Homo sapiens: one gene and its partners. The protein of the gene in region 4 interacts with the protein of the main gene of each other region in a pairwise test. Each region holds a gene or a part of one and is shown on either strand. Other genes may lie near its edges.

Region 1 (3,075 bases), on a different chromosome or scaffold from region 4:
GGTACCTAATAAATGTGTGTGGAATTGACATATAGTGGAAGTGTCACTTTATCTTAGTGCAGCAAGGTGGAAAGAGCTTTGGAAAGGAGAGGAAAGATGGTGGTTGTGAGGGTAAGGTGTTTTCATCAGAAGGCGGGAGCAAGGGTATACAAACCAAAAAGTCAGTTTAGTATGTGGCTTAGCTCAGAGCACACGAGGGTACCAACACAGCCAAAGACTGTAAGAAGGTAGCTGAAGTCCTCTGCCAAATAGGATTGAAAAGCTAAAATCTTTCTCTGTTTCTTTCTTAAGTAACAACTGGTCTATTCAAGCTCAACCAGAGCATATAAGAGAAAAAACTGACTAACGAGGGGGTCTTAAAGAGCTTTGAAGGACAGTTTCTAGAAAGTAGAAAGATCACTGAGTAAATTACTGCACCTCCTCTACCCCACAAAAAAAAGGGTGAGGATGAATGTAAAAGTGTAGAGCAAGCTTTCAGACAACTTCAAGTTTGTTTTTGGCGCTTCCGTTTGTAAGCAATCAAGATGGTGAGAGACGCTATCCCAAAGAAGAAAGTCTGTAGGAACCAGAGTAGCTGAGCCCGACCACTTGTGATGCCTTTATGCCTAAAACAGAAAAAACAAAATTTAAACACGAGATGTTAATCTTACAGTTTCATGGGAGTTATTGTCTTCTATATATATATTTTTTAAATTATACCTTCCACTACTTTCATTGGGTTTATTTTGCTGCTTTTCTCTGGCTTATCTTGGATGGTTCATTTATTTTTCATCTTTCTTGTTTTCTAACAAATGTATTTTGGATGGTAAACTATTCCCTGAGAACTAGTCTGGCTACTGTCTAGGGCACAGTATTATAAGACTGTTTCTCATGTGATTCTGATGAGCGGATGGAGTAAAAAGCACTGGTATGGTTTCAGAGCAAATGTTTTGCAAATAGACCAGATATAAATCCTAGCGTGGCTACCTACCAGCTGTGACCTGGGCAAATCACTCAGAATCTCTCAGAATCAGTTTTCTCATCTGAAAAACAGGAACAGCAGTAGCTATCTCACTGAGTCAGTTGAGATGATTTATGGGATAATACACACAACATGCTCAGGAAGGAGCCTGGCACACAGTCATGATAAACACCTGCTTATATTGTCATTCAAATTCAACTGCCTAAAATGAAGTGCAAAAAAAAGATGACCCAATGGAAGGGAATGGCTTGCTACAGTCTCATCTGTACATAAATAAGTCTCACTTGGATGACTTTTATTTAAAACAAACTTTAAAAACAATATATGTAAAAGCAATATAATTTTCTACAGTAACAGATTAAAACAGAAAGATCATATGAATATCTTAATAAATGCAGAAGTGGCATTTGACAAATTTCTTTTTTTTTTTTTTTTTGAGATGGAGTCTCGCTCTGTCACCCAGGCTGGAGTGCAGTGGCGCGATCTTGACTCACTGCAAGCTCTGCCTCCCGGGTTGATGCCATTCTCCTGCCTCAGCCTCCCGAGTAGCTGGGATTACAGGAGCCCGCCACCACGCCTGGCTAATTTTTTGTATTTCTTTAGTAGAGATGGGGTTTCACTGTGTTAGCCAGGATGGTCTCGATCTCTTGACCTCGTGATCCACCCACCTCGGCCTCCCAAAGTGCTGGTATTACAGGCGTGAGCCACCACGCCCGGCTGCATTTGACAAATTTCAACATCCATTCTTTTTCCAACCCCCCCAGAGATGGGGTCTCACTCTGTCACCTACAGTGGAGTGTACTGGTACAATTATAGCTCACTGCAGCCTCAAACTCCTGGGCTAAAGCTATCCTCCCACCTTAGCTTCCCAAGTAGCTGGGATCATCACAGGCACGCACCACCATGCCTGGCTAGGTTTTTTGTTTGTTTTTTGTAGAGACAGTGTCTTGCTTTGTTGCCCAGGCTGGTCTTGAACTCCTGGCTTCAACTGATTCTCCCACCTCAGCCTCCCGAAGTGCTGGGATTACAGGTGTGAGCCACCTGCATCCACATCCAACATCCATTTTTAATAAAACTTCTCAGCAAAGTTAGAAATACAATGGAACTTCCTAATTTTGACACAGGAGATCTACAAAACTCTATAATAAACATGATGCAAAATGTTGAAAGTTCTCCTTTGAGGTCAAGAACAAGGCACACTTCTAGTCAGCACTGCTGGAAGTTCTAGCTAGTAGAATAAGGGAAGAAACATAAATAAAAGGTATACAGAATTGAAAGAAAGAAATAAAACTGTATTTCTGGACAGTTTTATACCTAAAAACTGAAAATAATCTATAAACTGTTACAATTAATAAATTTATTTAGCAAGATTGCTGGGTATAAGGTCAATATAAAAAATTGACTATATTCATACAAAGTACCATCAGACAATTAGAAAATGAAATGAAACAAAGGGAGCCAAGATCATGCCACTGAACTCCAGTCTGGGCGACAGAGCTAGACTCCATCTCAAAAAACAAAAACAAAAACAACAACAAAAGTTGGCCAGGTGTGGTGGCTCAGGCCTGTAATTCCAGCACTTTGGGAGACCGACGCAGGTGGATCGCTTGAGCCCAGGAGTTTGACATCAGCCTTGGCAACATAATGATACCCTATCTTTTTTTTTTTTTTTTGAGACGGAGTCTTGCTCTGTCGCCCAGGCTGGAGTGCAGTGGCATGATCTCAGCTAACTGCAAGCTCCGGGGCCTCCCGGGTTCATGCCATTCTCCTGCCTCAGCCTCCTGGAGACCCTCCATCTTTTTTTAAAAAAAAGTCATTTATAATAACATCTCAAAGTAGAAGTTGCTGGAAATTAATGTAACAACAATGTGTAAAACCTCTTAAAAATTATATATATATTAAAGGAGATCTAAATAAATGGAAACAGATCATTTCATCATTTAGAAGACTCAATAATAGAAATATTTGATGCTTTCCTGACCTTAAGGAAAAAAAAAAGAAAAAAAACATAATGGAAATATGCCAATATTCTCCAAATTATTTCACATGGTCAATCCAATGAAAATCTCAACATCTTTATTTTTTGTTTTTGTGGCACAAGACAATGCACAGAA
Region 2 (4,382 bases), on a different chromosome or scaffold from region 4:
CAGGGTGTGTATTTGAATACACCTGTATTTCCAGGTCAAGGGCTATTTTAAAATCAGTTTGCACACTGGAGGCTGGTTAATATTTGGTCAATTCAAACTCATTAAGGGCCTTCCCTGTTCAGTTGCAGTAAAGGCAAAACTCTTGGGGAATTAGTGAAAGAAGTGAAGGAGGTACATTATATTCTGCTATTATAATACACTCCCATGCATTGCCATTTTGTAGTCTTTTAATAATGGTGTTATTAACATGACACTCCCTTTGTTCCGGACTGGTGACTTATGCTGAGAGAAGGCTCTGTACTCCAGATAATTAGCAAGTGAAAAAAATACTTCTTACCTGCAGAGGAATGTTCCCAAGTGTTAAATGTTGGAGTGGTACTTGAAAAATGACAAGGGACATCTTCAAGGAACCCTGCAGGAGACATATATGAGTTAGATTTATTGGAAGTCTGTACAAGGCTCATTGTTAGCATAGAGGGCATGCTTGGCGTCTACCTGGAGACTGTAGGAAAAGCTCTAAACAGTGGATGAGGATTGAGCTGGGAATGAAAAGATTCCTGGGACTCACCAGGTTTACAAGGGTTTGGGTAGGGTGTTCTAGGCAAAGGACGTGTTGGGTTTTTTCTTGAATCAGCATTCTAGGCACAGGGTTGCAGATACAGAGGAAGAGATAATGAAGGTCCTGAGAGCAAAAGGAGGAGGCATTGCTTAGAGCAGTGGTCCCCAAATTTTTTGGCACCAGGGATCAGTTTTGTGGAAGACACTTTTTTCCACGGATGGGTTGGGGGGATGGTTTCAGGATGATTCAGGTACATTACATTTATTGTGCACTTTATTTCTATTATTATTACATTGTAATATATAATGAAATAATTATACAACTCACCATAATATAAAATCCATGGGAGCCCTGAGCTTGTTATCCTGCAACTATACAGTCCCACCTGGGGGTGATGGGAGACAGTGACAGATCATCAGGCCTTAGATTCTCATAAGGAACATGCAGCCTAGATCCCTCGCATGTGCAGTTCACAACAGGGTTCAAGCTCCTGTGAGGATCTAATGCTGCTGTTGATCTGACAGGAGGCAGCGCTCGGTGGTAATGCGAGTGATGGGGTGTGGCTGTAAATACAGAGGAAGCTTCACTCGCAGACCACTCACCTGCTCTGCAGCCGGGTTCCCAACAGGCCCAGTTCCTAACAGGCCGGTACTGGTCTGTGGCCTGGGGGTTGGGGACCCCTGGCTTAGAGGACATCATCAGTAGTACTTAGGAATAAGGGCTGAGATAGAACGTGGAGTTTAGCAAAAGATCTAAGTAGAAGCAAGTTTAGGTTGAGGAAATTGAGAGGTGAAATGTTGGTAGTTATTGTTATAAAGTGGCAGTGAAAGGAATACAGGATGGCAACTAGAGAGACAGGAGGATTAATGAAGATTTTTCTTTTCAGAGGAGGGGAGATATATATTTGTATGAAAGTCAAATGAGTAAAGATGTTGAAGACAATGGGTAGGCCCTAGGAAAAAGAAAGCAAACATGGGGTAGAGACTATGGATTATTGGGATATCCAAGGAAAGAAAAGAGGGATGCATGTCTTTTCCTTAAGAAAAGAAAGACGGAATGAAGAGTGGATACAGGAACATTTTGAAAAGCAGAAAGGAGAAGATCAAATGTTGGATGCCTTCAGTTAGTAAAGTAGGAACTCAGAACCAATGAGCTTCAAGGGATCTTAGAAACAACTTGGTTTAACTCAATTCATATATATTTGTATTTGTATATATTTATATATAATTTGGTATATATACAATTAAATTTTAAACAATAAATTTGTATTCAGTTGAATCTTCACTGAGTTTAATAATTCTGTATAGTTTTATAATAGTTACCTTTTGGTCATTTCCTATCACACTTCCCAAAAATGACAGTTCAGATGTGTTCCAGTCACGTTCAGTGTTGTGTGACTGTGTGTTAGGAATATCCCCATTTAATAGCTGAGAATAAGAAAAGCAATGGGAGTGATTTAGGCCTGGGGAGTGCCAGAGGTCCAGGATGTAGGGAATTAGAGAGTCAGTGAAGCCAAGATTGAAGTGGATGACCACAGATTCAGGTCGGCAGGGAAGTGGGCTGGTGAAGATCTAATGGGTTGAGTGGGAATGAGTATTGAAACAGAAAGAGCTAAGACATGACTTATGTAGAGACCAAGGGAGAACTTCCCCTCTGCCCTCTGAAGACTTGCCAGAAAAAACTGACAACAGGTAGATTAATCGGAGAAATGGCATACAAGTTTATTAACGTGTGGGGTGGGAGGAGGGAGACAGAGTGATTACCTGAACCCCAAGAGGCTCAGAAGCTTATATACCATCTTGAGGCAAAGGTGGTCCTGTCATGTAGATGAAACCTCATAGGGAGGAGCCCTCAGAGAGAATAGATGGTGAATATTTCTTTCAGACCTTTAAAAGTGTCAGACTCTCAGTTAGTCTTTCCTAGATCCAGACAAGAGAGAACCTTCAGAGAAGGCCAGGTTGCATCAATGCAGATTTTCTCTACAGACACAAATCTACCTCACAAAAGACAGCTTTGCAGGGCTGTTTGTTTGCAGGCCCTCTGAACAGCCATCTCAAAATATGTCAAAGAAGTATAATTTGGGGTGAAATATTCTGATTTCCTTCACTTGCTAGACCCTGAAGTGGGAGAAAAGAGGGTGCACATTGAGGCTGTGGCCAGTCAAGGGGAGCACACGTGGAATAGTGTGCTTTCAGGTAAGATCCCTGTGTGTTTGTGCATGGGGCTGCTACTTAGGGATTTTGGTTTGTGAAGTTGAGGAGAAAACAATCCAGAGATCAGTTAACGTCTCTCCTCCATTTGAGATGTGTGCAGCTTCTTTCATAAATACATTATTATTTTCAAATAAACTTTTAATTTTGGAACAACTTTGATTTATGTAACCACCCCACAGGTTCTTCTTTCTTGCTGCCCAGATAGAACTGGTTTATCAACACGGGAGAATTGCAATAGAGAAAAAGAGTTTAATGCACACAGAGCCGGCTAAACAGGCGGCCAGGGTTTTATTATTACTCACATTAACCTCCCTAAAAATTTGGAGGCTAGACTTTTTAAAAGATAGTTTGGTGTGCAGGGGGTTAGAGAATGGGTGCTGCTGATTGGTTGGGGAGGCAATTGCAGGGGTATGGAAAATGGTCCTTGTATGCTGAGTCCATTTCTGGATGGGGGGGCCACAGGAGTTGCTGGTTTGGGAGGAGTTATCCAGTCATCAGAAATATAAAAATCTGAAAGTGGTCTATCTTTTAAAAGGCCAATCTTAGCTTCTTTAATAGTGATATTATGTGTAGAAGTAATTGGAGAAGTTGCAAATCTTGTGATCTCCAGACCAGTGGCTGGTAATTGTTTACATGTAATCACAACAAAATTCAGTCCCCTCTCATAATCCTAAACTTGTGACCTTTTATTAGTTTTATAAAGGCAGTTTAGTTTAGGGAAGAGCTGTTATCATTTAACCTGTAAACTAAATTCTTCCAAAGTTAGCTTGGTTCTCACTTGGGAATGACCATGGGCAGCTTGAAGGTTAAAGGCAAGATAGAGTTGGTTAGGTCAGATTTTTTTTCACTGTTATGATTTTCTCACTGTTACAGTTTTTGTAAAGGTGGTTGGTTTTATTTACAGAAGCATTACAAAGATTTCTATGTACTTTTCACCGACTTTCCCGTAAGGTTTGTATCTTGCATAACCGTGGTACATCGGTCAAAACTTAAGAAATTAACATAGCTATAATATCATTTTAGACTGTAGATACTATTCAGAAATTCACTGGTTGTTCCACTATCCATTTACTGCCCTGGGATACAATCCGAGATTCAACACTGCATTTAGTCTAGTTTATTTTGTTATTGTAAAAGCCTTATTGTGTTTTTGTAAATTACTTCTTCATTTTGGTACACTTCACTACAGGTTGTGCTGATGTCACCTGTAAGTGTAATGAACATTTTCTATAGTTTTTCATCTAGATCTAGGCCATTAATAAAATACTAATGTTTAGATCTAGATTTCTGGACTACCATTTGGGCTGATACTCCCTAATTGTTGATAAATTATCAGTCAGTATTACCACCTAAATAATTTTCCATGATTCAGCTTTTATCATGCACAGCATATTCATTTCATTTAATAACATTTTTTTAAAATGCTGGCTTCCAAAATATCGGCAACCCAGCCAGGTGGTAAGACAGAGCTGGGTTTTTAGCTTACTGCAGTGAGGAACACTTCCACAGAGCCTTGGTAGTATTTCAGAGGGGGAGAGGCAAGTTGTAACGTATTTGAGAATTGGAAGTTTGGTTTAAGGCAGGTCTTTTTTGTTTTGTTTTGTTTTGAG
Region 3 (4,382 bases), on a different chromosome or scaffold from region 4:
TGCCCTGGCACAGAGCTAGGGCTCTGCCTGGCCTAGTGCCCCTCCCTGGACACCCTGGACAACCCCCAGCCTCTCCTGCTGAAGTCTGTGGAGTCATCCTCCTGCTATTCTCAGCTGCAGGGACATCACCTCCTCCAAGGCAGCACTTACTTCTCGGGGCTCCGGGCCTGGGCCTCACGGTACAGGTAGACAAGGCTCAGGAAGTGCACAAAGAACTGGAGCATGACGGTGAGGATGGTGTACAGGTTGAAGATGTTGGGCAGGGGCCGTTCTCGGGAGAGGGTCTTGAGGGGCTGCAGCAGCAAGGCGGGTGGGGGAGTCAGGATCTGGCTCACTTGGGGCCACCCTGCCCACACAGCAGGCAGTAACATCCCCTGCCTCCCGGGAGACCTTGTGTACAGCCACCACCAAATCCTGGGGGATTCCATGGGTCAGCACCAGTCCCTGGATCCCTGCCTGCCTCTCACCCCTGAGCCCAGGGCTGCCTCCCTGGCCCCGGCTCCGCCATCCAGGCTCCCCATGGCAGCCACAGGGGCCTGAGAATCATGAAGCAGATCCTGCCCTCCCTGGAGCCCACGGGACAGGCACAGTCCCGCCCAGCCAATCTCCCACCCCCTCCAGCCACCGGGGACTCCCTGCGTCAGCCCATGCCTGTTTGGGGCCTTTGTGTCCAGTTCCTGGCCGCTGGCCCCCCTGGTTCTTTACGCCTTGGCCTGAGTGTCGGTGTCGCACAGGCCTCCCCAGCTGTCCACCAGCCTGTCCTGTGTAGCCTATGACCCACTTAGTTGTTTTTTTACCCTCTTGATGATTGTTCCTTGCTTGTGGGGCTCTGTGGGGCCCACCCCTGGGACCCCTACCTGTGGACAGGTGTGGACGCCAAGCTGTACCACCTGGAGGGGTCTGGGAGCCTCAGTCCACACCTGCCCTGCCAGCATTTCCTGAGCCATCCCAGCTACAGCCCCCATCTCTGGGGCCCTGGGTCCTGTAACTTGGGGATGACAATTCCCGTGCCTATATCAGCCTGGCCCTGGCAGGCCCATGCATCCCTGGCCTTCCAGCACCTCTGGGGCCCACCTTGGAACGGGAGATGAAGAGGAAGCAGCCGGCCAGCAGCAGCCCCTGTAGGGTGGCCTGGAAGTCACTGAACTTGACTCCCTCCAGGTAGAGGACGCTCTGGCTGTAGGCCAGGATGAGGGCATTGAGCGCCAGGATCTTGAACATCTGTAGCGTGGTCACCAGCGTGCAGCGGCCCTGCTTGATCACGTGGCAGACTGCAGGGTGGTGGGGAGGCAGGTGTGGGTGTGGGTAGGGGTGCCAAGGGGGGAATGAAGGGAGGGGGAGCGGGGGCAGGCAACTCACTGCACTGGATGGATGAGAGCTTGGAGGTGAAGGGTGCTGCGATGCTGGCATCCCCCAGTTTCACAATGGGCGTACTCTCGTCCTCGAGGTCTCGCAGCACCTGGCTCAGGCGGTCCTGCAGGGTAGACAGCAGGCTGTCAGCCCTGGCCAGGATGGGGTGCAGCACCTCCCCTCTTGGGACTCACCCTCTGGGAGGTTGGCTGCTCCTCGGAGGGAGGGAGCCCCGACCGCTGCTTGGCTGTCCTGGAGGTGGCTCTGATGCCACTGTTGCTCAGGGTTGGGCTGTCCCGGGGCCGCCGTCGCCGCTCGACAACCCGCTCAGGGGCATTGGCCAAGAGCGCCACACCTGGGGGGCAGGAGGGTGTCAGACCCGGAGGAGCAGGCTCCACGGAGGGGAAGATTGCTGGCTTCAGAGCCACTGGTCCTGAAGTCCCCCAGCTGGCTCCCGTGAGGACAGTTCCCAGACTTCCCCATTTCACCTGACACCCTAAGGAGACCTCAGAGAGTGCCCGTGTTGCTTTCTACAAACTACTTTAAGAAAACAAACCACCAACAATAAACCCCCACAACAAATGCAATGAAAAAACACACAACACGAGATAGGTCAAAACTAAACTGATTTTGGCCGAGCGCAGTGGCTCACACCTGTTATCTCAGCACTTTGGAAGGCTGAGGTGGGCGGATCACCTGAGGTCAGGAGTTTGAGACCAGCCTGGCTGATACGGCGAAACCCCGTCTCTACTAAAAATACAAAAATTAGCCAGGGGTGGTGGCATGTGCCTGTAATTCCAGCTACTCGGGAGGCTGAGGCAGGAGAATCGCTTGAACCCGGGAGGCGGAGGTTGCAGTGAGATGAGATCACACCACCGCACTCCAGCCTGGGCGACAGAGCGAGACAGTCTCAAAATAAAACAAAACAAAACAACCTAAACTGATTTCAAAAGAAATAGCCAAGGAGCATGATTCTAGGAGGCAAACAACACTCAATAAATGCTTTAGTAGATAAAAGCAGATAAATATTGGAAAAGCAAAAAAACCAACGTAAGATTGATCTTTAAAATTCAATTTAACACCTGAGTTCTTGCAAAAAAAAAAAAAGAAAAAAGAAAAAAAGGCCAGGTGAGGTGGCTCACACCTGTAATCCCAGCACTTTGGGAGGCCAACACAGGCGCATCATCTGAAGTCAGGAGTTGGAGACCAGCCTGGCCAACATGGTGAAACCCCATCTCTACTAAAAATACAAAAATTAGATGGGCATGGTGGCTGGCGCCTGTAATCCTAGCTACTTGGGAGGCTGAAGAAGGAGAATTGCTTGAACCCGGGAAGTAGAGGTTGCAGTGAGCTGAGACCGTGCTATTGCACTCCAGCCTGGGCAACAAGAGAGAAACTGTCTCAAAAAAAAAAAAAAAAAAAAAAGGCAGGGTTCGGTGGGATGCAGTGGTTCACACCTGTAATCCTAGCACTTTGGGAGGCCAAGGCGGGTGGATCACTTGAGGTCAGGAATTGGAGACCATCCTGGCCAACATGGTGAAACCCCATCTCTACTAAAAATACAAAAATTAGCCAGGCATGGTGGCACGTGCCTGTAATCCCAGCTATTTGGGAGGCTGAGGCAGGAGAATCGCTTGAACCCGGGAGATGGAGGTTGCAGTGAGCCCAGATCGTGCCATTGTACTCCAGCCTGGGTGACAGAGCAAGGCTCCGTCAAAAAAAAAAAAGACAGGGTCTTGCACTGTCACTTAGGTTAGAGTGGATCACACCACTGCCTTGAACTCCCAGACTCAAGTGATCCTCCCGCCTCAGCCTCCCAAAGCACTGGGATTCCAGGCAGGAGCCACAGTGCTCAGCCATCTGTGTGCTTTTGACAGAGATCTGGGGCTATGAACCATCTTCATGGCTTCAGCTCTGGGTTTTCTGAGTCACTCTCCCAACTTGTTGCCTCTCTCCTGGCCTCTGGCCTCCGCCCTGCTCTGTTCCTGGGATATTCGCATCCCTTCCTGCCCTCAAAGCCCCTGACCTTGCCACCCCCTCCCATCCTCACAGGAATTAGTGCCCCCGTGGCTGTCACCAAGGGCCAGGTCTGTCTTTCTAGCTCAGTGACATGTCCTCAACACCTCGTCCACAAACGAAATACCCTAGCCCACAGCACTCACCCACGTCAGCATGCTTCAGGGCGCCCACGTCGTTGGTGCCATCCCCACACATGAGGGTCACGTAGCCCAGCTCCTTCAGGCTGGTGATGACAAACTCCTGTATGGGCGGAGACAGGCTGAGCAGGGGCTGCGTGCCTACCGCTGTGCCCCTGACCCCTAGGGCTGTGCACATACCTTCTGCTTGGGAGCCACACGGGCGAACACCTGCACATGGGGGATGAGGCGGAGCAGCTGCTGGGGGTCGGTGGCCTGCAGGTGGGCCAAGCCGTCGCCTGTGAGGCACAGTGCGTACTCCAGGGCCAGTGCCTTTGGGGAGCCCCGGGCCAGGGGCAGCACGATGCTGCCGTCAATGGAGCGCCACTCGCACTGCCGGCCTGCGGGCAGCACCTAGGGTTAGGGCTGGGGGCTTGGCTGACCGGGCTCAGAAGCACCCTCCCTCCACTCGGACCCCAGCACCAGCCAGTCTCTCCTCTCTGGAGCCCGCACCTCCCTACCCACCCAGGTGACCCCCAGCCCTTCTCTGGGGACTCCACAAAGAATGTCCCTCAGGTGCACAGGGTGGAACCAAGAGCCTGGGGCCTGAGCTACTTGCCTGAGAGCCCGGGACACAGCCAGATTAGAACCTGGGCAGTCTGACCCCAGCTAAGCCATGCCCCCACCTCATGCAAGGCCCCCTAACCTGAAACACACAGAAGGGGGCTATTGCGCTCTCCTTGGGAAACCCCACACCAGGCCCTCACCTCATTTATCCCTGCGCCCGTGGCCTCTCTGAAATCCTGTTTTCTCGGGGCTGGGCCCCCTCCCAACTCTGACAGGGCCCCTGAGTTCTCAACATCTTCTTGCTCCACTTCCCCTTTCTTGCTGGCTGGC
Region 4 (4,382 bases):
TACTCTTCTGAAATTTATCATTCGATTGGTTTAACTGATTTTTTGTAATAATACTTATCCTAGAGGTACACAAATACAAGTATGTAATAAGACTTAATGAGAAGCTACTGCTTCGGAGCTCCAAACAAAGCATCAGGGTAATCCTGGAGAATAGTTAGAAGAATAAATAAATTCCTACTTTGTCTTCCTCCGAGGTTTTTGAATAACTGCCTCCTCAGCTGGCTCCGCATCAATACCATTTTCATTTCGTAATAAAGATGAACTAGATGACTTCTTTTGGGTGGAGGAAGTCTCCAATTCTGAAAACAAAATAAATTTAACTTTTCAAATAACTAAAACATAAAAAGAAAAGTAATGTACAAGACTTGTATAAGAGAAAAGAACTTCAAGAATTTTAATTGGGCAAAAATGTTTTCACTATCTTACAAATTTTTAATTTTTTAAAAATGTTATACTTCTAAACTCTCAATGTAAAAATTGAAATTGTAATGCCAAACAATATGGAAAAAAATTAAGTAACCCAATACCCAGGCTGTGCTGAAGATTCCCAAGATTATCTCCTGGTTCGCTGACTTTCTAGAAGGGCTCACAGGACTTGGAAATCATCACACTCACAATTATGGTTTACTACAGCAAATGGATATAAAGCAAAATCAGCAAAAGGAAAAAGTACATGGACCAAGTCCAGAGGAAACCAAGTACAAGCTTCCAAGAGTCCTCTATCAGTGGAGTCAAATAGGATGTACTAACATTACTGGAGAGTAATGAGTTGTGACAACACATGTGACACATGTTGTACAAAAGAAGCTCATCAGAGACAGTGCCCAAGGTTAGGGGCTAGTCACATAAGCCTAGCACATACCAAAATTCTGGATGCCCGGAAGGGAAACAGATGTTCAGCAAAAATCACTATGTGTGCACAAATGCACCGTGAGTCACCTTATAATTTAGGGAAAGTTTTCTATCAGTGTAGGGAGCTGTTTATCATCCAAGTTCCCAGATGCCAGCTAACGGCCAATCTTATCAGCAGGCTTTTCCAAGGATAGCAGTCTCAGGTCTGCTATATTAACTCTTTTCTGCACACAGGGTAGGTATTAAGTTTAAATGAGTCAGTGAAGCCTTCTTCTAATCCACTAGCTACTCTTCCTACCTGGAAATACTAGCTCCCTGGAATACCTTCAAGACCTTACAATTCTATTGTAATAAAATACTTACAGCCTCGACTGGAAATATAATGCAAGCAGTAGAGCCTACCATTGGTCATCCTGAACAAAATAAATAAAAACACAATTTTTAAATCCAGAAACTTAGAAAGGTGAACCTGCCAGGCTTGGTGTACTTTGGAATGGCAATGACAGGTCCTTTTTGATTCAAAACTTAGTTGGGTCCTGAATTTTCTAAAAAAGTCATTTCTGTAAACACACTTTTCACAAATTATAAAACTAGGTATTGGTATCCATCTTGATTTTTAAACTTGTATCTTAACTAAATTACTAAAAGGGCACTTTTAATGAAACTACATTTACTGCCACTAATGAAATAAACTGTAGAGTAGTTAAAGCTAGTCTGAGCACCATTTCTGTCTCTTTTCCTTCTTCTGCCATCATCCGCCCCTTCGTTCTCATAGACCCTCAGTGCCCCCAGGCACTGTGGCATCCCACTTCAACTTGCCTTCCAAAATTATGCTCCATTCTCCTGACTTTTCTAGTTCCTGCCCTTCTACTCCTATAATTCTTCCATCCAATCAAGACACGCCGTTTTCTAGAAGGACAAGTAATTAGGAAAATTATAATAAATTATTAATAAGGGCTGATGTTAATAGGAGAGCACTAATCTCCCCATCTTTGTTCCTTCCCTGAGTTTTGCTCCAATACAACTCTTTGTCATTTTTCTAATTATTATAAAAGTCATAATGCTCAAAATATAAAAAATTAGTAAAATAAATGAAGGAAGAAAATTTTAAAAATCATACTTCCTCCTTCTAAAACTTCTACCACTGTAACACTGCTATATTCTTCCATTCTTTTTACTATGTAGATGTATGTACATATTTACGTTCTGGGTTGAACTGTGCTCCAAAAAGAGATATGTTCAAGTCCTAACTCATAATACCTGTGAGTGTAACCTTATTTGGAAACAAGAGTCTTTGCAGATGAAATCAAGTTAAGATGAGGTCATGCTAGATTGGAATGGGCCCTAAATCCAACAACTGATATCCTTATAAGAGGGAAATGTGGACACAGACACACAAGGAAAAATGTGAAGATGGAAGCAGAGATTGGCATTATGCCACCACAAGTCAAACAATGCCAAGGACTGTCAACAACCATAAGAAGCTAGAAGAAATGGCCAGGCGCGGTGGCTCACACCTGTAATCCCAGCACTTTGGGAGGCCGAGGTGGGCGGATCACCTGAGGTCAGGAGTTCAAGACAAGCCTGGCCAACATGGCAAAACCCTGTCTCTACTAAAAAATACAAAATTAGCCGAGCATCATGGCAAATGCCTGTAATCCCAGCTACTCAGGAGGCCGAGGCAGGAGAATCGCTTGTACCCGGGAGGCAGAAGTTCCAGTGAGCTGAGATCGCACCATTGCACTCCAGCCTGGGCTATAAGAGTGAAACTCCATCTTAAAAAAAAAAAAAAAGAGGCTCGAAGAAACAAGGAAGGATTCTTTTCTAGAGACTTCAGAGGGAGCATAGTCCTGCAGACAACTTGATTTTGGACTTCTCACCTAAGAACTATGAAAAAATAAACTGTTGTTTGAAGTCACACAGTTTGTGGTAATTTGTTATGGCAACCCTAAGAAATTAACATAGTATATTTTACAAAAATGGGATCCTCCAATACATACTATTTTATAACCTTTGTTCTTTGATTTAATAATACACAACTGATGATTATCTGTGTCACCCTAACAATCCTTTTAATGGGTACCTGGTTCCTATTTATGGATGAAGTATGATTTATTTAGCCAGTATCACACCGTTAAATATCTGGGTCATTACCAATTTCTACTCTTATAAATAACGCTGCAGTTAACATCCTTTAATTACTGCAGCTATTGAATTTACTACTATTCCCAGAAATCCAGACAGGCTGTATCTATGCTCCTATGAGCAAAGCATGAGTGCACCCATTTCCCATCAATATTGGATTTTATAATTTGAAAAAAGCATTGCCAATTTGATAGGCCAAAAAATGGTATAGTATTTTATTTACCTTGTGAACTGCCTGGGACATAGAAAGACTAAACAAATGTTAGCTGTTGTTTCACTATATTATTGTTAGTACAGAATCTACCATTTCCCCACTAATCTGAAATGTCCATTTCATCATTTACTAGATTTTTCTATGCACTGAGATCTGAACTTTCTGTTTAGTCCTGTATTTGTTGCCCTCCTCTCATAATCTATACATATATGATCAAAAGAGACCTGTAAAGTATTCTTGGCTTAAGCCATTGGAGTTATTCTAGTGGTAAATATTTTAAACATAAAAGCAAGAAACCACCTGTGGGATATGGATAGGGGGAAAGAAATGAAAGCAGAGAGGTTTTTATCATGTCATCAAAATCACAAGTGCTATCACAACTTAACCTTGGTTTCTTCACATACCAAGAGGTAGCCTTGTCTTTTTCTGTCTTCTTTGAACAGGAGCCTCTGGGTGCTCTTTGAGTTCTTTAGTTGATGGCTCATTGCCCTCAGAGGGCCTTCGACCAGCAGTCTGAGCAAGGCCTTCCAAAGAAGCACTTGCTATAGAAAAACAGAGTAGAAAAAAATGAGATTACTTGAGCAAAGATCACTGAATCTTAAAAAGATGGAGGAAAAGGTAACTAGAATGTTTCCTATAGAATAACCCCATCTCTTTCAGAACTAATTATCCCCCAAATCTTTCCTTCCTCCTCACCTGTAACTTTGGGCTTTAAGTTAGGAAAAGAAATAAATGAAGGAATAAGAAAGGCTGAGGAAGAAAAAACGAGGGGGCTAAAAAGAAGAGCAAAAGACAGGAGGAGGAGAAATTGCTTCAGAACATTTAGAACTTTGAAAAAGGTGGAAAACATAATAAAAACTGATACCATAGAGAATTCTCTTACTTGCCTCTTGCCTTAAGAATTTTCATCAGCCTCTATATAGTAAAGTCCTTCATTAATAAGTTAAAGAATAATAAAGTCATCATGGATAATTGGAGTTAGCAGGTAATTTATAAGTCTCTTCATTTGGTCATTCACTTCAACTTCTTCCCTCATGAAATCTTTTAAAAGAATTTTAACACATACCTGACTGCATTCCCTTCCTTGCTTGTCTTCTTCACAAAAGAAATAGAAATTGCACTGGGTGCAGTGGCTCATGCCTGGAATCCCAGCACTTTGGGAGGCCAAAGC
Region 5 (4,382 bases), on a different chromosome or scaffold from region 4:
GCCTCCCAAAGTGCTGGGATTACAGACGTCTTGAGCCACCACGCCTGGCTTCCTTCTTTCTCTTCCTTTGTCTTTGTCCATTTCTCTGTCTCTGTCATTCTCTCCTCCGGCACTCTTTCTCTCTCCCCCTACCCTTTTCCCTCTCTCTCTGTCTGTCTCTCTCTCTCTCTCTGTCTCCCTCTTCTTCCCTCCCTCCCTCTCTCTCTCTCTGTCTGTCTGTCTGTCTCTCTCTCTGTCTCTCTCTCTGTAGTGTGTTCCTTCCTGCCCCTGCTTATCTTGCCTGTTTGGCTCAGGGGAAGTGGCTGAGGTCTCTGCCCTGCGTCCTGATGGATTTGTGAGAAGCCTGTCTGCTGCTCTCCCAGGCAGCCCTGTGTCAGGAGAAGCTGTTGTAGGGTTGCTGGGAACACCTGGCAGGCTGTTAGGAGACACCTAGGAGTGGCCTCAGTGTGAGCTCAGAGGCCGGGGACCTCGGCCCTCTGTGTCCTCCTCAAACAGTGGGCCTTGTTCCGGCGGTGGGTGGGGCCCTTGGTTGTTCCCCAGGGGGTGGGGCCAGGCCCCGTGCTCTTCGAGTCGCACACACACGCCCCCGGCTGTCTCCACTCGGCCTTCTTGTCGGGACGCCCCTGACAGGCGCTGGCTGCTTGTGCAGCCTGCAGCTGCCCTTCTGGTCCCTTCTGGTCCCTCCCACGTCTGCTCCCGGACTTCATCTCAGCACATCCGAAAGCCCTGGAGCCCAGGGTCAGCTGCAGGGCCTGGCCACAGCGCTGGCTTCTCGTGTTTCCCTTGCCTCCACTGAAGGTGGGCCCGTCTTGCTATGGAGGGGGTGATCTGCCGGGGGTCCTCTCCCTGTACCTCCGCTCCAGCCTCCCCCGTCCGTCTGAGTGCGCTCCGCGCCGTGGGTGGAGGGCGTGGGGGCAGAGCCTCTGCGTGGCTCCTGGTGTCTCCGCGCCGTGGGTGGAGGGCGTGGGGGCAGAGCCTCTGCGTGGCTCCTGGTGTCTCCGCGCCGCGGGTGGAGGGCGTGGGGGTAGAGCCTCTGCGTGGCTCCGGGTGTCTCTGAGCCGCGGGTGGAGGGCGTGGGGGCAGAGCCTCTGCGTGGCTCCGGGTGTCTCCGCGGCACTGGATTGTGGGCTCTGCTGCCTCCCAGGCCACCCCGAGCAATGGGTGCTTCAGGCTGCGCCTTGGATGGGACCGAGCCAGGCGTGAAGTGGCCCCCACCGACCCGGCTTCCCAGAGCTTTGTAGGAGCCGATTGTGTGGAAACATCCCCGGCCGTGGCTCCCTAGAGCAAGGTGGTGCCACAGCGGGAGGGGTCGCAGCGTCTGCTGGCCTGGCTGGCTGGGCTGAGTCGTTCTAGGATCTCATTCCCAAAGTCCTTAGGTCCTGGGGGCCTGTGAGCCATTGCTCAGCACCGTCTCTGGGCTGACCCTTGGCCATGGGATTAACACAGGCTCCAGAGAAGCCCTGGGTGTGGGGGGCGTGGGGGTCAGTGACGGGGTCGGTTCTCGTCCTCGGATCCAGGGGAGCAGTAGACGTGGGTGCTCATCCGCGTGCCTGGGCCCGCATCCCCTCAGCCGCAGTATTGCAGCGTGGGCTGGCGGAGCTTGGACTGCAGCCTCGGCTGCAGCTCACGCTCGGGGTCTCCCCAGAGACCGCCTTTCCAGCTTTCTGGGCAGGGGCTGCCATCACATGGCACTGACTCCTCAGATGGGTCTTTGCAGCATTTTCCATGTTCACAGGTATCATGGCGGGTTCAAACCGGTCCGGGGACCTCAAGGATGCACAGAAGTCCATCCCCACGGGGACCATCCTGGCCATAGTGACGACGTCTTTCATCTGTATCCTTGGAGGGGTGCAGGCGAGGGTTCCAGCCTCTGCCTGGGGGGAGGCCCCCATGCCCTCCCCGGCTCAGCATCATACCCTCGGCCACCAGCATGTGACTTCCCAGGTTAGGCTGTGCTCTCACCACGTCATCCTCCCTGGGAGACGGGGCAAGGGCTGCTGTCAGGACCCTGGCTTCTTCACCACTGTGTGATGCGATCGTAGAGAAAACAGAAGCAGTCACCCTGCCGCGTGTGGACAGTGATGCGCAGCGGTGTGTGGGGTGTGCCGCCGGCAGGCTGGGCCCGCGGGGCCTCTGGCTTCTCAATCCCAAGGCTGCCTCTTTCCAGCCGAGCATTGTCCCCTCAGCATGGTCCCCTGCCAATCCCTGGCGGTCAAGCACCAGGCCAGGTGTGTGTCCACCACCCCAGGGCCCCGTTCTGTGGCGCTGGACAGAGCCCCAGGAGGGTGCGCTGAGGACACGGGGGACAGGACGTGCCCGGGATGGGATGGGATGCAGAACGGTCCCCGCCCACCTGGATCCTGCGGCCCGCTGGCCAGTGCATCTCCCCACCCACCCCACCCCACCCCACCCCACCCCCCGTACCTGAGGACCCTGCACCCACGGACCTGCCTTTCCTTGACGAGGGCTGTGGATCTCTCCTGCATTGTGCTGTTTGGGGCCTGCATTGAAGGCGTGGTCTTACGAGATAAGTACGTTTCCACCTGCAGTTTTCGTGCAAAGCCTGTAGTCTTCAAGGGTTTTCCTGAGGATGAATTCGGCTTTGAAATTACATCGCCCTAGGACTTCATGTCCGCGTGCAGAGCTGAAGGCGTCCTGGTCCCAGGGTTGGGATCCCTTGGTCTGATGTGTCGTCTCTTCCGCTGGAGCCTAGGGCCTGGGGAACCGTTCAGAGCCAACTCCAAGCCCTGATGCGGCTGGGGGCGCAGGCCCTTCCTGGGGAGGCCACAGGGGTGTGGACGGGTGAGGCTTGGCCCTGGGAGATCCCTCAGCCCTGCTGGCAAGTGGAGAAGTAGTGGGGTCCCAGGCAGGTCATCACTGACCCTGCATCCTCATGGGGTGTGCGTGTCTGGCAGCCCCAAGGCCCCGGGGGTCCTGGGTGGTCCCTGACTGAAGCTGATGCCAGGCTGGGTCTTCCCTGCTCCCAAGAGCGACCCTGAGGTGAGCAGGACCCCCTCCCCCGCTGAAGACCCTCCAGAGCATTCTGGCCATGCTGGGCAGAGCCTGGTGGAGGTTTCAGCCAACGGGGACTGGAGGCCGGGCCTCAGCTTTCCAAGGAGTCGCCCCCACTGCACTGGGCCCCTCGCTCTGGGTGGGAGAAGACATTTTGTCTGACTCAGGCTCACTTCTGAAAGCCGCCCGCCCGCCTGCCCGCCTGCCTGCAGGTTCGGGGAGGCCCTGCAGGGGAACCTGGTCATCGGCATGCTGGCCTGGCCCTCCCCCTGGGTCATCGTCATCGGCTCCTTCTTCTCCACCTGCGGTGCCGGCCTGCAGAGCCTCACGGGGGCACCGCGCCTACTGCAGGCCATTGCCCGTGACGGCATCGTCCCCTTCCTGCAGGTGAGTCCCGCACCCTCGTCGGGGGGACCCTGGAAGGTCAGGGTCGGGGGCTCTCCTCCCCTGCGGGATCCTCACAGTGCCGTGTGTGGGACGCATGCCCGCGGCTTGGACCCCATGGTGGTCATTCTGCCCCTGGCCACTGCACAGAGCATGGGAGTGGTGGGAGGTGGGTGGTGGGCAGAGGCAATTCTAGCCCTCCTGCCTGCAGGTCCCTCCGAGCTCGGCCCCGGGTGTGTCAGGAGCGGCTGTGAGGGCCCACAGCCACGTGTCCAGAGGTGCCTGGTCTGTTGTCTGGTCAGAAGCCCTCTGCCTGCCTGCCACATCTTTCTCTGTGTGGCTGAGCTCTTCAGCCCGTGGGAGGTGGCGTCACCAGCCACCTGCAGCCAGTGTGTGTGGCTGCTCTGAGGATTGCACGGACGCCCGCATGGGTCCTGTCCGTGTGCTGTGCCCAGAGCTGCCGATTGTGGCTCCTCCTGCTACCTGGGCCCAGGGGCAGCTGTGGGAAGGTCGTGGATGGCAGAGCCATCCTTGCCCGTCGCTGGTCCCTCGGCAGGGTGCCGACCCGCAGGGCCTTTGTGTGGTTGCATCTTCAGTCCCAGCCGGGCCTAGGGCATGGTGTCCAGGAAGGGGACAGGCACACAGGCCCCGTGGGCCTCAGCTTCTGGGAGGTGAGGGTGGCCTGATGAGAAAGGTCACCACAGGGTCTGGGGAACCGCGAGTGCCCTGGAGACGCTGGTCCTGTGTTGTGTGGTCGGGGAAACTGAGGCGGGGGGGCAGGCTGGGGCCACACAGGTTGCAGGCAAGCCGGGCGTAGGCACAGCTCTGAAGCCTCCTGGGCTGCAGCCCTTTGTCAGGGCTTCTTCCCAGGCCAGCCGCGTGATGTCCCGGGGACCTACTGTGAAAGGCGTTTCTGCTGGTCTGTGTCTTTAAGATTCATCTGGGCTAGACCTGACCAGCCTGCAGCTTCTCTCCTAAAAGGGTGG
Region 6 (4,382 bases), on a different chromosome or scaffold from region 4:
GCCAGGCTTAATGGGTGCTGCTCTCTGTATAATGGATGGTCCAGATTGACAAACTTTTTCTGTAAAGGGCCAGATCTTAATGCTTTGCAGGCTTTATAATCTTAGTTGCAGCAACTCAGTTCTGTCATTGTCTTGCAAAAACAGCTATAGACAATCTGTAAACAAATAGGCATGGCTGCATTCCAGTAATACTTTATTTCCAAAACCAGGGAGTAGAAACAGTTTAGTGATTCCTGGTCTAAATCAGTGTTTTCTATACTGATTGTTATCTGCTCTTTGGCTGGATTTTGACCCTGGGATCATCTTGGTCACTGTGGTCATGAAGTACCTGGCAGAGAGAGTTAGGTAGCCAGAAAGCATTTGTTGTGCAAACGAAGGTCCCACTGATTCCAGAGACTTCTCTTACTCTGCCCAGCCTAAGGAGGCCTGTCCCTCTGCCGTGCAACCCCAGCTGCAGTTCAAATCTTTTTTTTTTTTTTTTTCCTGAGACTGGGTCTTGCTCTGTCATCCAGGCTGGAGTGCAGTGACATGATCATAGCTCACTGCAGCATTGATCCTGAGTTCAAGCCATCCTTCCGCCTCAGCCTCCCAAGTAGCTGGGACTACAGGCATGCCACCATGCCTGGCTAATTTCTTTCCTACTTTTTGTAGAGATGGGGTCTTGCTGTGTTGCCCAGGCTGGTCTTGAACTCCTGGCCTCAAGCAGTCCCTGGGCCCAAACCCCCTGTAATCCCAAAGTGCTGGGATTATAGGCCTGAGCCACCATACCCAGCCTAAATCCTTTTATTTATTTATCCCATAATAGCCATCTGTGAGCCAACTGCCCAGCCTAAGAGCTAGAACAGGTTAGCAATAACCTTTGAATTTCCACTTAAGATTTCCTGCTTTTTTGAATAGTTTTACCAAATAGGTAAATATTCCTAAGTGCTATATTGTTTAGTTTTAATTTTAGAGCTTTGCAAACTGTGCTGTATGTGGTCTTCATGAGTTATTTTCATGCAAGAGTTTAATAGTATTCATCTATGAATGAATGCCTCTGGGTGAATATACTAGAATTTATGTATTCTGTCAGTCAACATTTGCATTATTCCCAGGTTTTTTGCTGTTATGAACAATTCTGCAAAGAACATTTCTTGTCCATGTCTCCTAGGGGACATATTGAGGAACTGCTATTTGTAGGCACTTCTGACCCCATTATGTAGCTATGACTATCCACAACTTCTAGTACCAGACCGAGTTCCCAAAGGCAGTGACTCAGTGAATTGGCCAGTTCAGTGCCAGGGTCTGCCAGGCCCCACAGCTCCCACACCTCTTCCTTGCTCCTTACCTGTGCCTTCTTTCCCCCAGATTCAACTGGCATGCTGGGCCGCATCGTCTTTGCCTGGTGGAAAGGGTGAGTTTGTCTTCCCGGCCAGCAACTCTGGCAACTCTTCCCAGTAGTGGTAGTAATGATAGTAATAGTATTGCCATTAATTGTGGCTGTAAGGGTTCCATGAGATGATCTATGCAAAGTGCTTAATGCCCGTGGCATCGTACATAATGGCTCAGTAAACACTAGCTACCATTAACAGCTGTAACTGTGCCCCCTGAGCCTCTGTATGTTGTCTCTAATCCTTACAGCAACTCTGTAGGATGGGATTGGATGTGTACATTTCATAAATGTGAAATATACCTGCATGAGGGAAGTTACCTGCCCAAACCACACAGCTTATAACTAGCGAGATGGGATTTGAACCTGAAGCCTGTGCTTTCCATGGTATTGGGCAGTTCACTGGGCAGAACCCTCAACCAGGCCATGTGTTCAGGATCTCGTTATGTGTGTCTGATACCTCTCCCAAGAATATTCCCATTCCCTCCAGGAGATCTCATACTGAGACTCGGGCCTAATGCTGCAAATCCTGAGCTGGGCTGGGGCTGCAGTATCTCCTGCCACTGGGACCCTAGAGAAGTTGTTTCCAAGTGTTTGTGCACAGGGCAGGGAGTCACTGTCTGACGAAAAGGGCAGGTGAGGTAGCCGTCCACGGTGTTGTGTAACAGAAGTACCCTAGGCCTGGATGTCGGAGCCCGGCTCTCTTAGCCTTTTCCCCAACTCTGCGTGTGATCCAGGGAAATCATATCCCCTGTGAGGGCTAGTTGTCTGTAACATGCAGGGTTACACACTCAATGTGATGTTTACTAGTCCAAAACATGCTCACTGGGTACCCTCACTCTAAAGCAAGAAGAAGAACGGAGAGAGGCAGAGGAACTCAGGAAGAGCCTCCCTCCAAGGACAGACAGAGGCTGGGGAGCAGCCACAAGACAATCAGGGTTTTTCCTTGGTAAATCATGAGTTCATAAGCGGGAGACACTAGGTGATCAGTCAGTCACTGAAGGTTCTCCCAGCTAATGGTGGCATTTTAGGTAGCAGTGACCGGCTGTGGGGACAGATGTCTGTCTGGGGGTGTGGGTTTTCCTGAGCTCTTCAGACTTTACTGTGGTCCAAGACTCCCCACACTGCCCATAGGATGTGTTTCTCCTTAAGTCCAAATTACAACAACCTCTCCTCCCCAACAGGAGCAAACTGGACTGCAATGCCAAGCAGTGGAGGTGAGGAGGGGCGGGGACGGGGGAGGGGAGTCTTCCATTATGAAAGTCTCCTACCTCTGACCTCTAACCTCTGATCCCTCCCCAGGCTTTTTGCGGACATCCTCAATGACGTAGCCATGTTCCTTGAGATTATGGCTCCTGTATACCCAATCTGTTTCACCATGACCGTCTCCACCAGCAACCTAGCCAAGGTAGCTGCCTGTGGGGGCACCCATCTGCCTAAAACACCTGCCTTGGTAGTGTGTGAGTTTACCTGGGCTCTGTGAGTTTACCTGCCACTTCAAGAAGAATAAGAAAGTTCAGATGTTTCTACTCGAACCCAACCATCCTTTCTGACCCTCCTCCAGCCAGACAGCATCTAGTGCCCCAGAAAGTGTAAGGCAATGTCTAGAGCCACAGGACTGGGGAGGGAGCTCCGAGCTGAGAACTAGAAGGGGTTGTCCAATGTTGACATTTTGGGACCAGCTTCCTTGACTTCCCTTTGGTTCTTTCAGTACAGTATTTATTGAGTGCCTACTGCATATTTGGCACAGAATGTGGGCCCCCGTCTTTGAAAGGAAACCACACATAATTGCACCAGTGTTTGTGGAATTATAGGTACAGGTATTCTAAATGAGAAATGTTGGGGCCTGCAAGAGGCTGAGGCGGGGATTCCAGCCTGGTCAGGGAGTGTAGGAAGAGCTCCCCTGAGCCTGGGTCCTGAAGATGGAGTTTAAGGTGCAGGGCGGGTGTTCCGGGCAAAAGAAACAGCACAGCTTAAGGTCTGGAGGCGAGGTGGAGATGGAGCACAGACCGCACAGTGAGCTGGGGGACACGCGGGGCTCAAGCACACTCTTCCTCCACGCCAAGCTGTTGCCTGCACAACCCTTGCAGGTTGATCTCACCCAAATGAGGACACTGAGGCCTGGCATGGTTCAGTAAAGAGCATATCCTGTCAGAGTTAAGTCCCTGGCCCAGAGGAGAAACTCAAGAAAATGGAAAACCCATTCCAAGGCCCATGTGTCAACTTAAAATCACGTTAGGGCCGTGTTTCTCCATAAGTACTAGCATTTGGGGTGCAACGGTTCCTTGTGGTAGAGGACATTTAGCTTCCTTGGTTGCAAGCCTAAATGCTACGAGCACCCCTAAACAGGGTAGGAAACCCCAGAGAAAAGCATGGCTGTAGCTATGGACCGAGGGTTGTGCCATCTGGCTTTTGCTTCAAACTCTGCCTTTGAGACTTCAGTCTCTTCATCTGTCCAACAAGGGAATGGAACAGGGCCATGAGCTTCCCTCTTAAGACCCCTCTCTAGAGTTCCCCTCTCCACAACCTCCATCTCCAGCTGCACCAAGAGAAGCCAGCCTGGCTGTCATCTATGCTGCCGCCACCACCACTGCCACCACCTCCTCCTCTTCCCCCTTCCCCTTATCTGTCACCTTCGGCTGAACCTTCAGTTCTGTTATTTTTCCCTCCTCAAAATCTCCAGTCCATTCTCTCCTCCATCTTCCTGTCACCACCTCTCACTGCTGAGAGAGCACCGTTGCTTCCCAGGTAGCCTCCGTGCCGCTCCTCTCTCAGAGCAGCCCAGTGATCCTTTCAAAGAGGAAAGCAATCAGGTCACTCTGCTGCTCCATTGCTCTTAGGGAAAGACCTTCACCAGGCTTGCCAGGCTCCGTGTGGTCAGGTCCCTGCCAGCCACTTCGCCCTCACTTTGTCCCTCGTTCCTCTGGCCTTTGAACAGACTGTTTCCTCTGCCTGCGTATTAACTTGTTTATTTGTTTATTATCTGTTGATCTGTATGCTCCATGAGGGCAGG
Region 7 (4,382 bases), on a different chromosome or scaffold from region 4:
TTTCAGACTTTGGCATGCATTATCCCCTTTTTCCGCCTTTCACATTTTCTTGCCCAACTCTGTTCTGCTGACTATGACTGAGGTTGGGGTAAAGCTGGGACCCTGGGGCCTGTTAATAGGAGAGGTTGTGGCATGTCTGTTACCCATTGTCAGATCCCAGCTGTTCCCAGCGATGCCCCATCAGTCCCAGCTGAGCTTTGGCATCAGCACAGGCACTCCTGTGTCCCTCTCAGCCTCTGTCCATCTCACAGCTGCTGAGTGCCCCGCTGCACTTTGCCTAGCAGAATACCAGTGCATTTATGCTGAGTACTGGATGGAGTCCCAGACCAGTTGTAGGCTATCCTGTCCACTGGAGCTCAGCTCAGGGTGGGTGCCAACAGAACTACTAGCCGGCAGCCTTTCACCGTGGGCTGCAGAGCTGCAGATCACCTTTTTTTCTGGTATGGCTCAGAATTAGATGAGGGTGTAGAATCGAAATAAAGGCCACCCCTACTCAAAAATGTATCTGCCTCCACAACAATTCTTCCCAAGGAGAGACGTTTAAATGTCACGGCATCACTACAAGAGAAATACTCCCAATCCTAACAGTCATTTATATCTTGGCCTGAGTTATTTAATCAGATTGCTTTCCACAGCAGAGAAATTTGCCTGCATTTAGGTGGAGAAATTGGGGGAGAAAGAGCGTACTTTTGGAACAAGGTGTAATTTTGGAAACAATGGCACCCTTATCCTTCCAGTAACCAAGTTAACAAATATTTATTGATGGCCTAATGCTTTCCAGCACTTCACTCATCACTGAGGACACTGCAGTGAGCAAGACAGACACAATCCCTGCCTCCCTGCCTGACGGAGGTTACGGCCTCACCAAGTTTCCGGGGCTTCCTCTCTCCTTCCCCATCTCCACACTGCATCTGTGGCAAAGTCCTAGCCATGCTCGCACTTGCAGTATCTCTCTAATTGGAACTTCCTTTCCGTCACTCCTCTGGGTAACTTACCTAATAGTGCAGTAGCTGGACCCATCTTTAACCTCCTCCTTCCCCTCTGTGCTGGACACTGATTACTGCAGGACTAACCTTTCTAAAGTGTATTCTGAATACCTCCCTCCCAAACTCAAAGGCATTCGGTGGTGCCTCTACGTCCTATTTAGTTTTTTAAAATCCAAACTTCTTTCTGGCATATGAAAATCTCTAAGTGTACCTCTCTTCTACCCCTCCAGTATCTTCTCATTACTTTCAGCTAAGATGGTCTACGTTCCATCTTCTGCCACATGTGTCTCTAACTGCGTGCCTTTGTATATTCTGTTCCTTCTACTTACAATGCCCTTCCCTTCTTTGTTTATTCCAGTTCTCAACCCTGGTTGTACCTTAGGATCACATGAAGAGCTTCAGAAAAAAAAAAGAAAGAAAGAAAGAAAAGAAAAAAGATGCCTGGAAATCAACTCAGCCACATTCAGCTCTAAACCCGGGCAGTGTAGCCAAGGGCAGTGTAGCCAAGGTATCGGTAATTTTGAGAATCTCCCCCACTCATTCTGATGTGCAGCCAAGGTTAATAAATGCTATCTTTGTCCAGCTGCCACTCCACGTAGACCCCTTTCTCCAGACTCCAAGAGCGCCTGTCGCCTGTCGTTGGCACTAATTTGGCGCATAGCACATTCTGTTTCATGCTCGCTTCATTAAGATTCTCCTATCGGAAAAGTCTCTGTGCTACCCCATGATCTGTCCTCACCTGGGATGGTGAGGACGGCCGAAAGTGCTGGCTGATGGTTTGGTATGTTTGTCTCGAGGAGCGGAGAGAACACAGCTCCAATCACCAGGCCTTGAAACTGTGCTGCGTGGGGGGCATGAAAGGGATGGAAAACCCAGTCCCATCAACGTCAACAGCAATGAATCATCCTGATTGTATCGTCTTGGTGTGATGTGATGAAAATGGCACTTTCCCTCTGTGATCTTCCTCCCTAAAACCCATCACTCCAGTCTAATCATGAGGAGAACATCGAACAAATCCCAACAGGGCCACATCCTACAATACACCTGACCAGTGACCCTCAGAACTGTCAAAGTCCTGGGAAGCCTGAGAAAAGGTCACCACCCAGAGGCACCAAAAGAGGCACGACTCAATGGAGTGTGGTATCCTGGATGGGATCCTAGAACAGAAAAAGGACATAAGGTACAAACGAACGACATTTTAATAAAGTGTCAATGTTAGTCAATATTATTGTACCAATATTTGTTCATTAATTGTAACAAATGTACCACCCTAATGTAAGATCGTAATAATAGCAGAAACTGCATGCCAGGGGAGAAAATTGGAACTCATACAATCTGCCCAAGTTTTCTGTAAATCTAACTGTTCTAAAAAGATAGTCTATTCGTAGAAAAATAATAAAAATTCAAAAATTCAGTTAAAAGCAATCCTCAACCCCATCCCAGCACTCCGGCTCCTGCTCACCTTTCCGGCATTTGATGAATCTGTAACAGGAGCTGGGCTTCTCTGGTTCAGAGCCTCAGAGCAAACAAACAACCATCAAGGGCTTTTAAAGCTGCCTTTTAAAACAAGTGCTTTGGGTCGACCAGAGGCCACAGATCCATCAGTGGAAAATGCAACCAGTTCCCTCAATTTGCATTTTAAATGCCCATCAAATAAACAATTAAGCATCAATTATTGTTAAATCACCTAACTTGAAATGATTGCCCGCCCCGCCCAGCCAGCAATGTTCCAGAGAGGAGTCGAGGAGGAGACTGGACTCAGAGACTGGCAAGGGAAAGGACAGAGCAGAGGGTGGTGAAATTCCAGCAGTCCATGGCTCAAGGAGGCTGCAGACACTGCTGAATTTCCCAAGCTGCCAGGAAGGCAGCTGGACAGTCTAGGAGCAGGACAGGGCACCTCCGCCCAGCGCATCACTGTGGCTGACACCTCCCAGGGTGGCCTTTCCCTCTCCTGTCAGGCGCCTTCAGTAGCCCAACGGCTCGAATGCTGCCCCTCCAACCCTCATTCATGGAAGAGGGGCACTCCCACTGCGAGGGTGCTGGAGGCTGAGTCGTCAGGTACCCTGGACTCAACCGGCCCAGACCCAACCCAGCCCGGCTGCACAGGGTGGAGCGGGAGAGGCAAAACTCTCTTGTCATATAGCAGGGGACTTATTTTTAACCTGGAGGCACCTTTATCTTTAACATGAAAACATGAAGTTCTTTCTAGGGAAGAGAAACTTGGACAGAGGAAAAAGAAGAAGAAGAAGAAGAAGAGAGAGAGACAGAAAATAACTGACTGTGAAAAGAAATAAGGCCTCTTCCTTAGAAACAGAAACAGAATTCACAAATCACAAATCCAGGCCTGTTTTCTGGAAGTCTCCCTGGAAAGATCCCAAGCTGGACCATAAGCGGAGGCATGGTGGAGAGATCTTAGCCTCTGGTCTTTCAGTGCGTGCCGGCCTGGCTTTGTCCTCCAGCTGCATGCGGGTCACTGTCATTCCAATCACATCCCCTCATCCTTGGCCCTCTCTGCCCACATCAGATATTCTGAACTGGGGCAGCCCCATTCTCTGGGCCCCAGCCTGGTCCGTGGGGCCCCAGCCCCCTTCCCAGGTCTTGCTGTCACCTCACCATCACTGACAACCGTGACACTGTGGCATCCCAGCCATCACCCATGGACTTCTCACAACAGCCCTCAGAAGCAGAAACACAGAACAGTACTGCGAGGCCAACTCAGGCACAGGCCAATGCCGCGCCTTGCCCAGAGGGAGTCAGAGTGGGATTCAGGCCTCCTGCCTGCCAGCACAGGGGCTGAGGCCCCTCTGGTTCCCCAGGAGATCTCGGTCTGGCTCCAGAGAGTCTGAATGGTGAGTGGTATTGCACAGAAGCCACAGGCTGGGGCCCCAGCAGGCTGCACGCCCCAGCAGGGCGTGATGGAGTCAGGCCAGGATGGGATCACCTCCCCCACACACCTGCTGACAAAGGCCCATTCAAGACAGGACAGACAGCAGTCCCAGCAGCAGACACAGAAACCCAGAGCAGCTGCCAGGGCCAGGAACCCAGAAGCCAGGCCCACGCCACCCTGCCCACAGCCAGGCCACAGCACCAGGCAGCCCCCTTTGCTCTCTCTGCCTACCTCTTTAGAAGGACAGCTCTGGCCTGCATGTTTCAGCCTACAGGGCACTTTGCACAATTTCATATTGTCTCCCTTTTAGGGGTAGAAGTGGCATGAAGATGAACCCTGACCCACGGGCCTGGATACCCAGAAATGTGCCCTGCCTTTAGAGGAGGGGGCTGTTGACCTGACTCTGTCTCTGTTTCAGGAAACACATTATCCCCTCCCTCCCCTCAATGCATCCTCATACCCACAGAGCCAAGGCCTACACCCCTTCCCATGTAGGGCTGTCACCAGTG

What was found.
Region 1: the proteins of TMEM237 (region 4) and TMEM254 interact in binary tests that used the Homo sapiens proteins (3 or more experiments, as listed by UniProt).
Region 2: the proteins of TMEM237 (region 4) and CDS1 interact in binary tests that used the Homo sapiens proteins (3 or more experiments, as listed by UniProt).
Region 3: the proteins of TMEM237 (region 4) and ATP13A1 interact in binary tests that used the Homo sapiens proteins (3 or more experiments, as listed by UniProt).
Region 5: the proteins of TMEM237 (region 4) and SLC12A7 interact in binary tests that used the Homo sapiens proteins (3 or more experiments, as listed by UniProt).
Region 6: the proteins of TMEM237 (region 4) and RUSF1 interact in binary tests that used the Homo sapiens proteins (3 or more experiments, as listed by UniProt).
Region 7: the proteins of TMEM237 (region 4) and FXYD6 interact in binary tests that used the Homo sapiens proteins (3 or more experiments, as listed by UniProt).

Annotation. Positions count from the first base shown.
Region 1 is NC_000010.11:80,088,327-80,091,401, reverse strand, and holds part of TMEM254 (transmembrane protein 254), read right to left. Parts: intron 1,023-3,075; coding exon of another isoform or gene 990-1,022; exon of another isoform or gene 971-989; intron 606-970; coding exon 485-605; 3' UTR 1-484.
Region 2 is NC_000004.12:84,585,450-84,589,831, forward strand, and holds part of CDS1 (phosphatidate cytidylyltransferase 1), read left to right. Parts: intron 1-4,382. UniProt on the Homo sapiens protein: Catalyzes the conversion of phosphatidic acid (PA) to CDP-diacylglycerol (CDP-DAG), an essential intermediate in the synthesis of phosphatidylglycerol, cardiolipin and phosphatidylinositol.
Region 3 is NC_000019.10:19,646,055-19,650,436, forward strand, and holds part of ATP13A1 (endoplasmic reticulum transmembrane helix translocase), read right to left. Parts: intron 3,887-4,382; coding exon 3,687-3,886; intron 3,610-3,686; coding exon 3,513-3,609; intron 1,706-3,512; coding exon 1,545-1,705; intron 1,475-1,544; coding exon 1,360-1,474; intron 1,272-1,359; coding exon 1,075-1,271; intron 294-1,074; coding exon 151-293; intron 1-150. UniProt on the Homo sapiens protein: Endoplasmic reticulum translocase required to remove mitochondrial transmembrane proteins mistargeted to the endoplasmic reticulum.
Region 4 is NC_000002.12:201,633,133-201,637,514, forward strand, and holds part of TMEM237 (transmembrane protein 237), read right to left. Parts: intron 3,754-4,382; coding exon 3,616-3,753; intron 300-3,615; coding exon 179-299; intron 1-178. UniProt on the Homo sapiens protein: Component of the transition zone in primary cilia. Required for ciliogenesis.
Region 5 is NC_000005.10:1,076,850-1,081,231, reverse strand, and holds part of SLC12A7 (solute carrier family 12 member 7), read left to right. Parts: intron 1-1,735; coding exon 1,736-1,834; intron 1,835-2,473; coding exon 2,474-2,531; intron 2,532-3,224; coding exon 3,225-3,399; intron 3,400-4,382. UniProt on the Homo sapiens protein: Mediates electroneutral potassium-chloride cotransport when activated by cell swelling. May mediate K(+) uptake into Deiters' cells in the cochlea and contribute to K(+) recycling in the inner ear.
Region 6 is NC_000016.10:31,497,697-31,502,078, reverse strand, and holds part of RUSF1 (RUS family member 1), read left to right. Parts: intron 1-1,347; coding exon 1,348-1,393; intron 1,394-2,553; coding exon 2,554-2,586; intron 2,587-2,671; coding exon 2,672-2,777; intron 2,778-4,382.
Region 7 is NC_000011.10:117,866,451-117,870,832, forward strand, and holds part of FXYD6 (FXYD domain-containing ion transport regulator 6 precursor), read right to left. Parts: intron 1-4,382. UniProt on the Homo sapiens protein: Associates with and regulates the activity of the sodium/potassium-transporting ATPase (NKA) which catalyzes the hydrolysis of ATP coupled with the exchange of Na(+) and K(+) ions across the plasma membrane.